Regions from separate parts of the Homo sapiens genome. Here region 2 is linked to region 1. The links come from fine-mapping of genetic effects on gene expression. A gene starts in region 1. The other region holds a variant in brackets. All regions are shown on one strand. Distances are between the middles of the regions.

Region 1 (5,383 bases):
ACAGGTCTCAATCAATTTAGCAGTTTATTTTGCCAAGATTAAGGACGTGTCTGGGAGTGAGGCTTGTGCCTTTCTCCAAAGATGACTTTCAGGGCTTCACTATTAAAAGGGGAAAAGTAGGCTGGAGGAGAAAGAGGGAGGGTACATTAATCCACATGTTGCAAGAGAAAAGGAGCAGGTAGGGGAATAGTCAATTGGTATTTGTCTCAGGCTCAGTAAATCGGCACACAAGATAAGGTGAACACACAGTAAATACTTGTAGAGATATTTAACATTTTATCTGTAGCTATCCGCTTAGGAACAATAGCAAAGGCAGTTGCTTGCATGACTCCGTTGAGCTTAATTTTTTTCTTTTGGCATAGTGAACTGGGGTCCCAAGTTATTTTCCTTTCGCATTCCCTATACCCCAAAGGATTGCTATCTAGAGAGGCTAAGAAAAATCTGAACAGACAGGCCTTGCTGGGATTCCCCCCTCAGTCTAGTTCTGTCAGATCATACTCTTTTTGTCCTATCACATTTCTACACGCTGTCCATTCTTCATCAAACCTAACCATAAAAATGGAATCTTCATTTCTGAAGGCTCCCGTGTCATGTAAAACTTTCAATAAATTCATCAAACTTTTTTCTTGTTAACTTCTTTTGTTATAGGAGTGTCTTCTATGACCCTTATGATGGGTGAGGAAAGGTATCACACTTTTCTGCCCCTATAGTTGACAAGTATTTTATTTTTTTAGAGATGGGGTCTCCCTCTTTCACCTTTTTTTTAGAGATAGGGTCTTGCTCCGTCACCCAGGCTGGAGTGCAGTGGCACGATCATGGCTCACTGCTGCCTTGACATGGGCTCAAGTGATTCTCCTGCCTCAGCCTCCAGAGTAGCTGGGACTACAGGTTCAAGTCACCGTTCCTGGTGGACAATTATTTTAATAATCAAGGCCGGGAGCAGTGGCTCATGCCTGTAATCCCAGCACTTTGGGAGGCCGAGGCAGGTGGATAGTGAGGTCAGGAGTTTGAGACCAGCCTGGCCAACCATGGTTTAGTAGAAACCCCGTCTCTACTAAAAATACAAAAAATGAGCTGGATATGGTGGCGGGTGCCTGTAATCCCAGCTACTCAGGAGGCTGAGGCAGGAGAATCGCTTGAACAGGGAGGCAGAGGTTGCAGTGAGCCAAGATCGCGGCACTGCACTCCAGCTTGGGCAACAGTATGAGACTCCGCTCAAAAAAAAAAAAAAAAAAAAAGGCCGGGCGCGGTGGCTTACGCCTGTAATCCCAGCACTTTGGGAGGCTGAGGCGGGTGGATCATGAGGTCAGGAGATCGAGACCATCCTAGCTAACATGGTGAAACCCTGTCTCTACTAAAAAAAAAAAAAAAAAAAAAAAAATCAGCCGGGCGTGGTGGCAAGTGCCTGTAGTCCCAGCTACTCGGGAGGGCGAGACAGGAGAATCGCTTGAACCCGGGAGGCGGAGGTTGCAGTGAGCCGAGATCGCGCCACTGCACTCCAGCTTGGGCAACAGAGCGAGACTCGGTCTCAAAAAAACCCAAAATATGGCAGTGCAATTTGTTTTCTCATTGCTATCATAAAGCATATGAACAAACTAAATTTCAAATTCCCCGAAAAGGAAAAGTTTATTGCTGATCTAATTAGACAGGTCCGAAAATTTATGTAGAAATAGAAACTTTTCATAATACAAATCTTGATAAAACATTACAAAAGCTACTGGATAATTGACTAAGTATGCTGCAACAGCATCCTGAGCTTCCACAGTGGGCCTGAAGCAGCAAATTAAATGTTAGAGGAGTGGGGACTGAACACCCTCCTGCCTTCTTGAATCCAGCAAGATCTAGATACCAGGATTTCCTTACCTCACCTGCCCAGATACAGGTGTTATTCTTAATTCCAAAAGACAGCTTCAAGTCGGTAAGATCTGATTTCTAGACCCAGCTCTGTTGGACGAGTTGTGAACAAAAAATTATACACTATCATTCACCCTTTCGGTGCTTTATTTCCTAAGGCATGGGATGGGAACAATGAGTATCCGTCCAACCTACTTCACCAGCTTGTGAAAAACCAGAGTGAGAGAACACATCTGAAAGCACTGGGTAATGATGAGGCAGGTTATACTGAAACATGCACTGCCAGAGTTTGAACCAAGTTCTGCTGAAGACCTGTGTGACCGCGGTAAGTCATGTAAATATGAACCGTTCCCCAATTTGTAAAACGTATTCTTTTCATGTCCCCAAACTGGTAGGAGCGAAGAGTGTCGGGGCGTTATTGGAGCCGTTTCTCAGCGCTCCACAGTGCACACCAAGAGGGCAGGTGTCCTCGCACTCGGTTTCTAAACTCTGGCTCTGGGCTTCTCTAGCCTCGCTCTCTTATTTACAGATGAAGAAGGCTCAGAGACCGAGTGACTTGTCCACGGTCACACAAGGAGTAGTGTTACAGAATCGATTCCAGGGCCACCGGGTCTGTAAGGCATTTGGCGCGGTGGCCGTTGGATGAGCAGCCAGCAATGGCGGCTCTGCAATGTCGACACCGCAAAGCCAAGCCAAGGCCCATCACCTAGCGGCCGGTTCACGCACTACAAGAAAAGTGCCGTGAAAAAAGACTCTGGGTGCTGCGGCAGACGGGAGCCAATACGCGCTAAGTTCGCTCTGCTAATTCCTTTTTTCTATTGGTCCTTCCAACTGTCAATCAATTATTTGACTGTCTCTTATTGGCTTGCCGTCAATCATTTTACTCAGTCTACCAATCACACGCTCTTTGCCAAGTGCTTTTTTTCGTCCTGACGACTCTTTCTGAGTCTGACGAATTTAGCCAGTTCCTTTATTCCATTGGCCAGATCAGACTCCTCCTCTCGTTTATCCTGTTGGGGGCGGAAGTGAGAAAGCCCTTATTCGTATTGGCTTAGATTTGCAAGCGGCAGTTGTCTATCAAATCTATCAAGTCGCCCTTAGCGCTCAGGAAGTACGACACCGGAAGGGGTGGGCTTTGCGAAGATGGCGGCGCTGGTGAGTTTGGTGTGGTTTCTTCCTCGCGTAGCTATTGTGGAGTTGTCCTTTGCCTTCAGCGGCTGGAGGCAAACTGTTGGTACCAGGGAAGGGTGGTGATGAAAGTTGCTTCAGGGAGGCGGCCTCCCTAGAGTTACCGTTCCTGTCCGGTAACCCAAGGGGCTGGCTTTAAGGCGAGTCTGTGAACCCGAGTGTGAAGGCCCCGAGTCTGGGTGTCTGACGGAGAGAGGGCAGTTTCCCACCCTAGACGTTCCACTTTCCTATAATCCTGAGGAAAGAATGACTTTTCTTTACGCCTCCTCTCCCTTCTGTAGGGGGTGCTGGAGTCCGACCTGCCAAGTGCCGTGACACTTCTGAAAAATCTCCAGGAGCAAGTGAGTAGTGTCGCCTCTGGAATAAATTAGTCACGGATTGGCTTTGAGTTTGTGTACTTCACCTCAAAACTTTGGTGATTGAGATACGTGAATGCTTCCAAAAACCTTAGAGTAAAATGATGTAATCAAAACCTTTTCACGCCAGAATTCTAAGTAATTGATTCTGCACCCAAGGGAATACAAGAAACTCCAAAAAGAAATTATATGAATAGTTTTCCTTTATTCATATAGCTAAGGAAACCAGTGCTTGGAATGGTAACATGACTTGCCCTTTGGGTGCCCAGGTAATACACACTTATATACAGATGCTTCTCGACTTAACGATGGAGGTTATGGCCTGATAAACCCATTGTAATTCGAAAACCTCATAAGTCGAAATTTAGGCTTGATGCCGCTGCCCAGCATCACGAGAAAAGGACGGTTTCTACCGAATGCATATTTCTTTTACACCCTCGTAAAGTGGAAATTAAGTCATAAGTCGGGGAGTTATGTAGTTCTATGCATTGTAAGTTCAACTAGTACAAACAAAATTACAGTGCTTCAGTCACTACTCTCTCAGTCCTTTTCTCCTCCCTGTGGTTCAGTAAAAGATGGTCTCTTCTTTAAGAAGTGGAAAGTTTTTTTTTTTTTAAACTTTTTGAAGAACCATCTCTCCTATGCTTTCCGAGAAGTGAGAAGATAGTACTATACTTTAGACAGTGTTTCAGATAATTTTTAGGTGGCATTGTTTAGCTTTTGCTCTTCACAGTTTGCAGACATAATTTGATATAATCTAATCACTTGTTTTATTTGGGCTAATTTCAGGTGATGGCTGTAACTGCACAAGTGAAATCACTGACACAAAAAGTTCAAGCTGGTGCCTATCCTACAGAAAAGGTAAGATGTACTCAAACAGTAAGCATCCCCTGACTTAATGTTCTCAGTAGTTCTTTCATTGTATGTTTATTGTGTCTTATATATCCTAAGTGCTCGAGCTTCAAACATAAATATGATCCAGTTTCTGTGCTGAAGTCTAGAGGGAAGACAAAGCAAAGCAATAGATGTAAGTATTAATAGTAGCAGTCACATTACAGAGTTATGAGTCTCCAGCCAAAGAGAGGGATTAATTAACTGCCAGAAGAGCAGAGGGATTCAGGACAGGCTTCCCAGAGGAGGTGATAGGATTTTGAGGAATAAATGGGAGGGACAGAAAGAAGGAACATGTGCAAAGGCACAAAGGCCTGAAAGTATGGTGATAAGGGAAAGGAGTAAGTCATTTTTGTGATAGGATGTACTTTCTGTGTTATGTGTGTTGGGGGTAGGAAATAAGACTGGAAAAGTCACTCTGAAGATTACTGTAGGCCAACTGAGGAGTTACTTTCAGATTTCATCTAATCTAAGACACTTATTAATTGGGACATATCACTTATTGTATATATTAAGAAAAAATGTGACAGGCCGGGCATGGTGGCTCATGCCTGTAATTCCAGCACTTCAGGAGGCTGAGGCTGGAGGATCGCTTGAGCTCAGGAGTTCGGGACCAACCTGGGTAACATAGTGAGACCCTACAAAAGTTAAAAATTAGCCGGGCATGATGGCATGTGCCTGTAGTCCTAGCCACTCAGGAGGCTGAGGCCAGAGGATTGCTTAAGCCTGGGAGGTTGAGGCTGCAGTAAGCTGTGATTGTGCCACTGCATTCAGCCTGGGTGACAGAGCAAGACCCTGTCTCAAAAAAAAAAAAAAAATTGCTTATGACATAATACCAAGATGCCAGTGACTGAAACATGCATCCTGATTTCAGAGATGTTAAAATATGAAAACCATGTGCATCTTAAAATTGAAATATGCGCCTGTAATCCCAACACTTTGGGAGGCCAGAGTGGGAGGATTGCTTGAGCCCATGGGTTTGAGACCAGCCTGGGCAATGTGGTGAGACCTATCTCTATAAAAAAAAATTAGCTGGGCGCAGTGGTGTGTGCCTGTAGTCCCAGCTACTCAGGAGGCTGAGGTGAATGGATCGG
Region 2 (5,383 bases), 21 kb before region 1:
ACAGCTCTGTCAGTAGGATAAGGGCCTGAGATATGGAACCATCCTCTCTTGCAAACAGGGAGCATGCATGTGGAGGACCAAAGGTGGGAGGAAGGCTTGAAATCAAGAGAATGGAGGGTGAGAAAGGGAAGTGCAGGGAGTGGGGTCTACAGCCCCAAAGGTGAGCCTCAGGAAGGCCTCACCTCTCTGGGCAGTGCCAAGAATCCTGGGGAAGAAAATATGAGGAGTGGCCTGGCTCCCAGCCCTTGTGTCCTACTTCCCCTCTCCCATGCCTCATTATACCTGAAGGGCCAGTCCTGCCCCTGTCCCTGGATGCATGTGAGAACCCAGGAGGAGGACCTGCATGGGCTCTGGCCTACACTTGGAGTCTCAGCATCGTCACTCTTGCTGCTGTGCCCTAGTTCTAGAAATTCAGCTTCTATCTTGTTCCTAAGACTTGGGCCCCACCCTGTGCCGCAGGCCGGTAACTGAGCCCTGGTTCCCTCTGCCAGAGGCCTTGTCTTGGTAACCCTCTTCGTCTTCCTGGCCCTGTCTACTTCTCAGGGATTAGATTTTTCCCTTAAGCCCCAGCCAAGAAGCCAGGGGCACTGTTTCCTGCTCATAGAAGGAGATAGCATATTTTGATAACTAAGAACATAGATTTTGGAGTCAGACTTAGGTTAAAAAATCCTGGCTCTACCACGAACCAGCTATGTGACCTGGGTGTGTCATTTACCCTCTCTGAGAAAAAACATGCAGTATCATGTGCAGTCTTATGACCCAAAATATAATCCATAGACTGGCAGCATCAGCATCAGTGGGAGTTTGTTAGAATTGCAGAACCTCAGGCCCCAGCCTAGATCTATTGAGACATTAGCATGTTAACAAGAACCCAAGGTGATTTTGTGCACATTAAAGTTTAAGAAGCACTAATGTAGAGGAAAGAGCACAGGCTCTGGAACCAAGAAGATCTTGCTCTGAATCCCAGCTCTAAACCTCAGTCTTATCTGTAAAATGTGGATGGCAATACCTACTCCATATACTTATCTTGAGGATTATGTATATGAAGTTACAGGCACATGTTCTAAGAAACAGTGAATTCACTAACAGTGAATGTATCTATTACTATCTATGGCCTGCTTGGCTTTCCAAACCTGTTCCAGTGCCCTCTTATTAGAACATCTTCCTGATTCTGATTGCTTTAATAGACTACCTCCTTTCATCTGCTGCCAGGCTAGTCCACATCCTTCCAGCCTCTGCAATGAGAATATTCTCTGAGATCTGCCCCATCTCACTGGGTCCTGTCTAACTCCAGATCCCAGGTCCTTCCAGGCCTACTGTTCTGCTCCAGTTAACAGGAACACAGCTTACCACACCCCAGGAATTCATTCCACCAACATTGATTAGCACCAGCTTTGTGGCAGGCATAGTCTTGACTTTGGGAGCTCACAGAATAATGTTGTTAAAAAGATTAACTGAGGCACATAAGATTTAAAAGAGTTTACTTGAGCAAACAGCAATTCGTGAATCAGTCAGCTCCAAACCAGAAGTGGCTGGGGGGCTCCACTAAGGGTACACAAGTGGGAGGCTTTTACAGGAGGAACATGGAAGTAAGGCAAATAAAACATTTGATTGGTTACAGGTATACAGCTGTCTTATTTGGTCTGTCCTGTTAGAAAGTCCCTAGTCACATAATTATAAGTTTGTTGGTTGCTTCTGATTCATTGAGCTTAAGTTCTGTTTTTCTTTAACATAGGCATTTACAAGAAATAGCCCAAGTTAAGTTTCACTTATGTTCACAAATCAAGCAAGGTTAAGATCACTTAAGAGGCCTAACTGGCTTTTCCTGCTCAGGGATTCCTCAGGCCCAGTGTCCATTTCAATTACTTTAACACCGTAGCAGGGCAGACAAGCACAGAGGTGGTTACAATATAACAGAACAGGTACTATAATGGAGGAAGTACCAGGTGCTATGAAGGGCAAAGTCCGGATGCCATGGGAGCATGAAGCAAGGCCACGTGATTTGGACTGGCGATCAGGGAAGGCTGTCTGGAAGAAACACCATTTTAGGCGAGACTTAAAGGATAAATTGGAATATGTATTAGTCCGTCCTCACATTCCTATAAAGAAATCCCAGAAACTGGGTAATTTATAAAGAAAAGAGGTTCAATTGGCTCACCGTTCTGTAGGCTGTACAGGAAGCATAGTGGCATCTGCTTCTGGGGAGGCCTCAGGAAGCTTCCAATCATGGTGGAAGGTAAAGAGGGAGCAGGCACGTCACAATGGTGAAAGCAGGAGCAAGAGAGAGAAGGGGAGGCGCTGCACACTTTCAAATGACCAGATGGCACCAGAACTCACTCACTACCGTGAGGACAGTACCAAGGGGGATGCAGCTAAACCATTCATAAGAAATCTGCTCCCATGATCCAGTCACCTCTCACCAGGCCCCACCTCCAACATTGGGGATTACATTTCAATATGAGATTTGGGTGGGGACACAGATACAAATTATATCAGAATATGTCAAGAAGGAGCTGAGCAGAGAAGCCAGCGTGTCCAAAGCCCCAAGAGGAACTGAAATTGATTCAGAATGGCTAAAGTATGGGAGTAATCAGGGGAATATGACAAGAGAAGAGCCTAGAAGGCAGGTTCAGCTGGTCATGAAGGACCTTCTGAACCAAGTTAAGGAAGTTTGGACTTTAATCTATAGGCACTGAGCAGCTATTAATGTGTATTAAAAGAGATCATGATACTATCTGATTTTATAGAATAGGTGGCATAACCAGTGATTCTTGGGGGAAAGCAACGTTTAGTTTCTGATTC[A/G]TTTGCATGAGAGATTCTAGACTTGTGGTCACAGGTAAAGAATGAAGAAACCTACCTAGAGAAACTGGGAACTAGAGAAGAGAAAGGGGAAGGGATCCAGGAGAAAGGTACTCAGTTACATTTATACTATTCGGCAGATTCCACCTTCGAAATGTCCCGCCTCCTCCTTTCTTTTCCATTCTCTTGAAAAACACTAGGCAAGCCCCTTTTTCACGTCTGCATAATTGCAACAGCACCTTAACTAGTCTTCCAGAGGCTCATTTCACCAGATGGCTAGCAGACTTGATTTTCTAAAGCACTACCTCTTACATATCTGTCATTCATAGAAACTTCCAGGGCTCCCTGTTGTCTTTAAGATGAAGCCTGGACTCCTCTGGCTGGCATTTAAAGACCCTCCATAAGCTGGCCCAACTGCCCCACCTTATCCCTTCACAGTCTCCCCCCAGGTCTGACTGGTCTATGGACAGCACCCTCACCCCAGGTTGGGCTTTCTCAGTCCCTGACCTTGTCGGGACTTTTTCTGGCTGCTTTTCTAGGCACAGCTCAGTGGCTCTCCTTTGAAAGCACTTGCCAGTCCAACACAGCTGACCCTGAAACACACAAAACAAACTTTGTTGAAACTTTACAACTACAAAAATGACACCCAAGATCTCCTACCCAATCACATTATTCTCCTTTGTTCAGTTCTTTCCAAGGGGTGTGTATATGTGTATAATACATATTTTTTGTATGGCTGCTGTGTGTAGATATATATGTACATAATCTCATAAAACACCAATTAGCATTTCATATTCTTACAATCTTATATTTCATAAATGGGGATAATAATATTGCTAACCTATGGGTTTGCTGTCAGATAACTTAATACAGTGATATAGTTTAAATATGTGTCCCCCCAAATCTCATGTTGAAATGTAATCCTCAGTGTTGGAGGTGGGGACTGGTGGGAGGTGTTTAGGTCCTGGGCGTAGATTTCTCATGAATGGTTTAGCTCCATCCCCTTGGTGCTGTCCTCACCATAGTGTGTGTGTTCTCTCAAGATCTGATTGTTTAAAAGCGTGTGGCACCCTCTCCCTGTCTTGCTCCCGCTCTTGCCATATGACATGCCTTCTCCTGCTTTGCCTTCTGCCATGAGTAAAAGTTCCTTGAGGCCTTCCCTGAAGCTGAGCAGATACTGTAAAGCCTGCAGAACTGTGAGGCAATTAAACCTCTTTTCTTCGTAAATTACCCAGTCTCAGGTACTTCTTCATAGCAATGCAAGAATGGCATAATACATACAGAGATTCTCAAACTTGTTCATGCTGCAGAATCACACAGAAGCTTTGTTAGGACACATTTTCTTGGCTGGGTGCAGTGGCTCATGCTTGTAATCCCAGGACTTTGGGAGGCAGATCATTTGAGGTCAGGAGTTTGAGACCAGCCTGATCAACATGATGAAACCCCATCTGTATGAAAAATACAAAACAATTAGCTGGTGTGGTGGTGCATGCCTATAATCCCAGCTACCTGGGAGCCTGAAGCAGGAGAATCACTTGGGCCTGGGAGGTGGAGACTGCAGTAAGCCGAGATTGCATCACTGCACTCCAGCCTGGGATGCCTGAATTTGCATACCAGATGCTACTGGATTGAGGACCACACATTGAGAACCACTGAATTAATGCATGTAAAGTGCTCAGAATAGTGCCTGGCATGTAGTAAATGCCCAATAAATGGAGCTACGGAGCTATTCATTTGCTATTTCTGAGTAAAAATATTAACATTTACTTGTTTGATATTTAGATTGTTTATAGTTTTAAATAACATTGTTATTGAGATATAATTCATGTGCCATAACATTTACCATTTTACAATATACGATTCAGTAGTTTTTAGTATATTCAGAGTTGTGCAAGCATCACCACTATCAAATTTTAGAACATTTTCATCACCCCCAAAAGAAATACCATACCTATTAGCAGTTACTCCTCTTTCCCACTGACTCCCTGTTTGTAGTTTTTTTGAACTTATAAATAAAGTATCTCTAAACATAAGTACACATGGCTTCTTTTTATTTTGAATGATTTCAATAGAACAAATTCTAGGAGACGAATTCCTTAGTCAAAAATTATGAATATGTTTACATATAGCCACTCTTTGAAAGCATTAATTTACAATCATTGTGGCTTTTTTTCCTGCTGTTGCTTTTCATTGTTAGCATATTGCTTATTCTTACACCGCTTCAGTTTCCTTAAGTTGATGGCACCAGAATATGAGGTCCTTGGGGTTGAGAACTGTAATATTTTCATCTTTGTGTCCCCTAGGGCTACACTACTGAGTGTGGTAGTCACTAGCCAAACATGGCTGTTGGGTACTTGAAATGTGTCTAGTGCAACTGAGACACTGAATTTTTCATTTAGTTAAAATTTAAAATGAAGGGAGATCAATTTATTTTCAACAAAGATTCCAAAACAATTCTTTGAGGAAATGGTGCTGGATACACACATGCAAAAAGATACATTTAGACCACACCCCACACTATACACAAAAATAACTTAAAACAGTTCAGAGACTTACATGTAAGATCTAAAACTTACAATTTTTG

Alleles and levels. Positions count from the first base shown, and alleles are read on the strand shown. Sizes are in standard deviations (SD) of each study's normalised expression.
With allele G in place of A in region 2, the expression in lymphoblastoid cells of the gene that starts at base 2,985 in region 1 is higher (large effect, 0.85 SD a copy in CAP).

The links. PIP is the estimated chance that this variant, and not a neighbour inherited with it, causes the effect.
Region 2: its variant is the best candidate, but not a certain one, in a credible set for the expression of NGDN in lymphoblastoid cells (CAP, PIP 0.76).

Annotation. Positions count from the first base shown.
Region 1 is chr14:23,466,719-23,472,101 of GRCh38, forward strand. NGDN (neuroguidin) reads left to right here and starts at 2,985. Exons shown (of 11, transcript NM_001042635.2): 1 at 2,985-3,009; 2 at 3,324-3,383; 3 at 4,188-4,259. The coding sequence starts at 2,998. RefSeq lists a silencer at 2,612-2,661 and an enhancer at 2,748-3,688.
Region 2 is chr14:23,446,215-23,451,597 of GRCh38, forward strand. No RefSeq gene overlaps it. Among named protein-coding and RNA genes, the nearest start is that of MYH7, 13 kb to the left of the region's middle. The variant A/G (reference allele first, on the strand shown) is at 2,803.